2 linked regions of the Homo sapiens genome follow. The protein of the gene in region 2 purifies or fractionates together with the protein of the main gene of each other region. This does not show direct contact. Each region holds a gene or a part of one and is shown on either strand. Other genes may lie near its edges.

Region 1 (3,831 bases), on a different chromosome or scaffold from region 2:
TTGTTATGTCTGTTGCAAATATTTTTGTCTAGCCTATGGCGTGTCTTTTTTTTTTTTTTTTTGAGATGGAGTCTCATCCATGTTGCCCAGGCTGGAGTGCAATGGCATGATCCCAGCTAACTGCAACCACTGCCTCCCGGGTTCAAGCAGTTCTCCTGCCTCAGCCTCCTGAGTAGCTGGGATTACAGCCATGCGCCAACATTCCTGACTAATTTTTTTGTATTTTTAGTAGAGACAGGGTTTCACCATGTTGGCTAGGCTGGTCTTGAACTCCTGACCTCAGATGATCCGCCTGCCTCGGCCTCCCAAAGTGCTGGGATTACAGGTGTGAGCCACCATGCCTGGCTGGCATGTCTTTTTTTTAATACCAAGGAAAATATAATTTTAGGAATTAGGAATAGGGATAAACTGAGGGTGGTAAATATCGAGAAATCAAAACAAGTTCTAGTCCATTATACTTAAATCTTGAGGATGGAAAATAAGTGTGTGACCCAGTGGACCGTGTCCCAGTGTCAATCTTAGCACAACAACAAATGTTTGCTAACTCAATGTTATAATGCAGCTGCCAAAAGACAATTTCCATCCCCGATACTAATTTTTAGTTGCTGTGTTGATGTTGATACTGACATCATCCTGTTTCTATGCAAATGACAGAACACTAGATACTCTTTTTTTTGAGATGGAGTCTCGCTCTGTCGCCCAAACTGGAGTGCAGTGGTGCGATCTCAGCTCGCTGCAACCTCTGCCTCCTGGGTTCAAGTGATTCTCCTGCCTCAGCTTCCCAAGTAGCTGGGATTACAGGCGTGTACCACCATGCCCAGCTAATTTTTGTATTTTTAGTAAGGACAGGGTTTCACCATGTTGGCCAGGCTGGTCTTGAATGCCTGACTTCAAGAAATCTGCCTGCCTCGGCCTCCCAAAGTGCTGGGATTACAGATGTGAGCCACTGCGCCTGGCCTCACTAGGTATTCTTTTGTACTTCATGACCATGGCCTTATTTGCTCTCCTACCCACTGAGTATGAATTTTTACAGATATCATGATCACATACTGAAACTTCTGGTCCAGTATACGTTGTATTTTCTTCTTCAGTTTCTTCAGGTCCTCCTAAAGTATCTATTAAGTCATCCAAAGCAGCATCCATGCCTGACTGGAAAAGAAAGAACAGATATTTAAATGTTATTTGTTATACATATTTCACCTTTAGTTTAACTACAAAAAAAGCCATTCTGTGTAGAAAAACCACCAAACACCAAAAGTTCTTCAAATAGTTCCCCAAAATAGTTAAAATCTGGTCTTTAACAGACTTTACTATTTAAGTCTCAAAGTACAAATTCTAGGTTGGAAAGATGAAAAGCCACATTCAGGCAAGAAGCACAGTTTCAACAAGTCTACAGGCATTACATACATGAACAAATGTACAAGTTCATTAAAGCTGCCAGTCCGATGCACTGACAGTTAAAAAAGGAAAAACAAAACAAAACAAAACAAAATACAGGGAATTATAACCATGTTGCTCTAAGCGATAAGGGAAATGCTTGGTATTTATTGCTTATCAATACTTTTCCAGAGTTTTAAACAAAGAACCCCTAAAAATCTCTATATAGTACCTATTCCAAATAGAATCTATTTCATGAGGGAAATCACTCTGTATTATTTCATTCATGTTTTTTTTTGTTGTTGTTCACTTGCTTGCCTGAAGAGGTTTACAAAACAGAAATTACCTGAGACATTAAACTTACAAGAACTCACAAGTTTACTCTGCCAATATGGGCTTAAATCAGTATAACTGATATGGTTTGGCTCATGTCTCCACCCAAGTCTCAACTCCAATTGTAATCCCCATGTGTCAAGGGAGGGACCTATAATCCCCACGTGTCGAGGAAGGGAGGTGACTGGATCATTGGGGCGATTTTCATGCTGTTCTCATGATAGTGAGTGAGTTCTCATGAGATTGGATGGTTTTATAAGTGTTTGACTGTTCCTCCTTCACATGCTCTCTCTCCTGCTGCCTTGTGAAGAAAGTGTCTGATTCCCTTTCCAGCATGATTGTAAGTTTCCTGAGGCCTCCCCAGCCACACAGAAATGTGAGTCAATTAAACCTCTTTTCTTTATAAATTACCCAGTCTCAGGGAAGTTCTTTATAACAGTGTAAACATGGACTAATATAATAATAAATAAGAGTGCTTCTATCTATTTTTTATGTTGATGACTCGTTATGAACAATAACCTGCATTGAAAGGAGAAAACAACAATCTAGGAAAGGACCTTGTATTATTTGATTTAGATGAAAAATAATTATTTAAATTGTCTTTTTTTTTTGCAACTACCATATTCCCATGACAATTTTAGGACTCTCCTGATCATGGATATGTGAAATACAATCTGAAGGCTGTTAGGCTTACACTGATTCTTTTAGGAATTTCAGAAAAAAAGAAGTACCTTACTTCTTTAGTAATACCTCTGGTTAAATAAAGTGTATTTGCAGGAGAGAAACTGGAATGTAAACTCCATGGGATGAAACTGGAGTTTGTTTGTTTTTTTTTAAAAAAGGGGTTATAATAGCAAGTGTTACAAACATGAGTGTGAAAACCATACTTCCAACCCACACTTTCAATATTAGCTTGAAACAATAATTCATTAAAATGGTCCTTTAAATTACCCCCCTCATATTATTTGCCCACAAGAAATCAGATTATGATAAATACAGAGCATATGAGTAACTGTCTCATGTAGAAGGACACTGTTGTCTTCATACCTTTCCCGATGGTTTATCCGGTTTAGATTCAACTGGCACAGCTGGGGTTAATGATTTCTTTTCTTTTTTCTGGTGAGAATTGAGAAATTAACAACTCCTCACATACCTTAATAAAACTCAATACTATTACAAATTTTAAAATAAATTCATTATATTAACAAGCATTGATCATACACTGAACATCCGCTCTACAGCAGAAACTGTGCTGTGTGTTTTATATCCTTTTTCAGAAGGGCTTTAATTATATTAGTCTCATTTAGTGATGGGCAAAGCAAGGCTCAGATTAGGCCACTTTCCTCAGGTTACACAGTAAGGGACAGAATGAAGATTTGAATCCAAGACTGTTTCTTTCCTCGCTGTTCTTCTCCAGGGCCCACAGCCAGTTTTTACAACATCCATGAATTCTTTCTATAGGCTGCCACTTCTGGCTTTGCTCTCTGGCTCTTTGCCCCCACACATCAAGACTTCCATATCCCTCACTTCGGCATCTCAACACCTCCTCTTTCCTTAAAATGAGTTGATCGCTCATCATTGCTTCCATTGCTCTATCAAAGACTGCAAACAACTTTTCAATCTGCAGTTTCCATGCTTTTATCCAGATGTAATCTCTGAAATTTGACCCTTGGAGCATCTCTCCCTCCCCATTGCCACCTTTCGGCACCATTCTGATCCTATTGTGGCATCTATGCCCTTTGTTCTCCATTACCTCTGGCATCTCTTTTACTTTGGTCCCCACTGTATACACTCTGCACATTTCTGCCCTGTGCTGGTGGTCTTATCCAAAATCATTCTCTATGGCCAGAGGCAAATGCTTTCAGAGACTGGCAGAAACTAAATGGGTGAAGTTGTTGGGTTTAAGATAAAAGGGGACCATTTCCCATTTGAAGGTATCCAAACTCAGGGAACAAAGCACAGGAAGAGCACAGGCTCTGACTGCCAAGGTTTGCATAACAGTTGAGACATGCATGGCTGCTTGAGGCTTTAGCAAGTCACTTCTCCTTGGAGATATTAGATAAGTGAATCTATACGAAGTATGAAAACCATTGTTTGGCACATGCTCAGCACTATGTAAGT
Region 2 (3,227 bases):
TACAAATGTATCAAAACAAAATTGCTAGTGCTTTTTTTTACTAAAGAAACAGAATTAAAGAACTTTAGAATTTTAGATAGTAGCTCCATCATTTAAAAAAATGCTACCCTTATATAAAACTGCTTAATTTCATTGTCTGAACCTGTTTCTTTATGGTTAAATAAGTTTCCTAAAAAGCACTTTTCATTTTTTTACATAATGGGAAAACCAGGTATAAAATTACAAGAAAAACAGATTTTGAACCTCTCTCCTCAACTTTTTAAAATGGAAAATGTATCTCCTGAGGGCTTTCTTGATTTATTCTAGGATTAAAAAAATTCATTCTTAACAACAATAACAACAATAATAAAGTTCCTACTCCTTGGAATTTATTCACTAAATAAGCAACACCTTTTAAAATCTACTCCATTAGAACTCTACCCCACAACCTCCCCACCATATATATGCAAGTCCATATAAATCCAAATCTCAAAAAGCTGATATACAAACCACTCAGAACATTTTTCGTGAAATATCTGTTTTAATTCAGCAGTAAAAGGCAGCACATGATCAGAAATATGTAGGGTTGTGAAAGAGCTTGCCAGGAAATGAGAGCTGTTGCACAGGGTATCAGCAACTGTGTACAGCTTGGCAAGGTTTTCAGTCCTGTCCTCCAGGGAGGATCTTGACTTCTCAGTTCCCACTTCAGGAATACATGGTCAACTGCAGCCATTCTTTGATAGACACTTGAATCAGGCCATCTCTATCTCTATCCAGAGACTTGAAGGCACGAAACATGGCATCCAGGCGGACCAAGCAGCTGATGAAATTGTTAAAATCCATATCTCCATCTTCATTAGCATACCGGCGGACAATCATTTGGTAAAGTTGTTCATTTAGCTGGAAGCCTGCGGCCTGCAGAGCTCCCCGCAGCTGAGAACTTCCCAGAGACCCAGAATGGTCCCTGTCATACTGCTTATAAACACACTGCCATTTCTTGATGTTGTTCCACAGATACTTAAATTCTTCAAAGCCCAGCTTACCAGTCGTGTCACTGTCCATGACAGACACAATGCTCCGGCAGGTGTCAAGACTAAAACCGTCAGTCTTAAGATCTTTGTGCTTAGAAAGGACTTTGTTGAGAATATTCATCAGATCAGTGGCACCCACCTCCATGTCTGGTCCAGCCAGCTGTGTAAATTGTTGCCGAAATCGCCTAACTTCCTCACTTTCTGAGGCCTCCACACTGGTGAAATGCTGCTGAGTGGGAGGCGGTTCTGGAGTATACTGAGCTGCTGCAGCCTCACTGATAAAATTCACAATTCCTCCAACTATCCCTCCAATATTTCTTCCTCCTCCTTCTCTTCTCTGACCACCTCCTCCAAAGAGGCCTCCAAGAGCTTCTCCAAGACCTCGATCTGCTCCTTCCAATAGAGCCTTTGCAAGAAACATGCTTTCAGTTTAACAAGCAAATGCGGCAGCAATCTTAGAGATGGTATGAAAAAAGATGAAATGGAGTTCAAGTAGTTTACATGTGGAAGAACTGGCTTTTCTTTACCTGCTTACACTGCACCACGCCCCATGATGTGATGTTTCACATCCTACTGAAGATACCTGAGTTCCATGAGGTCCTAGCACCTGCCATATTTTACAAGGCCTCAATAAAATTGTTTTCACTCTTCCAGATACTTATAAATTATAGTATGTAGGACACCTTAGGATAATAGTTTTAAAGAAAAAATATTAAAGTATGCATTTTTATGTCATTGATTTCTTAGTCCTCTGTCTCAGCACCTAAAAAATGATGTGCATTTTCCTAACAGGAAAAAGGTAAATGATGCAAGGAAATCAAAAATTTATTCTCTAAGAAATATTTATTGTTAGAATAGAATTGAAGAAATCTTGGGCATTGGAAGAATATTTAATCCTCTTCCTTTAGCAAAGATTCTCAAAATCCAGTAGTCTTAAGAAAAATTTAGAAGGGAGATTTTTAAAATGCAAGGTCCTGAATTTCCACTCCCAGAGATTCTGATTCCATAGGGCTGCTGTGGTGTCTGTGATCGACATTGCTAAAATCTTTTTTGAAATGTAACATTCATGTAAAAAATGTATCATATAAATCACAAATGGATAGCTCAAAGAATTTCACAGACTGCACACATCTCAGAGGCCTCTTCATACTTCTTTCTAGTTACTTCCGTCTTCCAAGGATAACCACTGTCCTGACATCTAACACCATAGATTTATTTTTGCACCTTAAATAAATTAAATCAGACAGTACAGACTCTTTCATTTATTCCTTTTTCATTATAAAAATGTTAAATGTTTTAAAATTGTGATAAAATACACATGCCATAAAATATACTATTTTAACCATTTTTAAGTATAGAGTTCAGTGGCATTAAGTATATTTGCATTGTGAAACCATCACCACCAGCTATCTTCAGAACTTTTTTCATCTGGCAAAACTGAAACTGTACCCATTAAAGAATAACTCCCATTCTCCCCTTCCCCCACCCCTGGTAACCATCTCTCTATTTTCTAGCTCTATGATTTGACTACTCTGCATGCCTTATATAAGTGGAATCATACAGTATTTGTTCTTTTGTGACTTGCTTATTTCAATGAGCATAATTTCTTCAAGATTCATCCATGTTGTATCATGTGTCAGAATTCCCTTCCTTTCTAATGATGAATAATATTGTATTGCATTAATATACTCATTTTGTTTTTCCATTATCCCATTGGTGAATACTTGGGTTGCCCTTTTGGCTATTGGGAATAATGCTGCTATGAACATGGGTATACAAATATTTGTTTGAGTCTTTGCTTTCAATTCTTTTGGGTATATACCAAGAAGTGGAATTGCTGAATCATATGATAATTCTATTTTTATCTTTTTAAGGAACTACCATACGCTTTTCCTTATTGACTGTACCACTTACATCCCCACCAGCAATACACAAGAGTTCCAATTACTCCATATGCTTGCAAACACTTGTTATTTTCTCTTTTGTTTTGTTTTCTAATAATAGCCATCCTAATGGCTGTAAAGTGGTATAACATTGTAGTTTTGATTTGCATTACCCTAATGATTAATGATGTTGAGCATCTTTTAATGTATTAATACTTACTGACCAAAGAAGATCTTTGGAAAAATGTCTATTTAAATCTTTTGGCCATTTTAAAATCTGGTTATTTGTTGGGTTTCTTGTTGTTGAGTTGCAGGAGTTCTTTAAATATTCTAG

The links.
Region 1: the proteins of CAPNS2 (region 2) and CAST purify together in Homo sapiens (affinity purification with mass spectrometry; 4 studies listed by BioGRID and IntAct, with this or other methods). This does not show direct contact.

Annotation. Positions count from the first base shown.
Region 1 is NC_000005.10:96,735,167-96,738,997, reverse strand, and holds part of CAST (calpastatin), read right to left. Parts: intron 2,827-3,831; coding exon 2,758-2,826; intron 1,150-2,757; coding exon 1,051-1,149; intron 1-1,050.
Region 2 is NC_000016.10:55,564,961-55,568,187, reverse strand, and holds CAPNS2 (calpain small subunit 2), read right to left. Parts: upstream 1,505-3,227; 5' UTR 1,432-1,504; coding exon 685-1,431; 3' UTR 501-684; downstream 1-500. UniProt on the Homo sapiens protein: Calcium-regulated non-lysosomal thiol-protease which catalyzes limited proteolysis of substrates involved in cytoskeletal remodeling and signal transduction.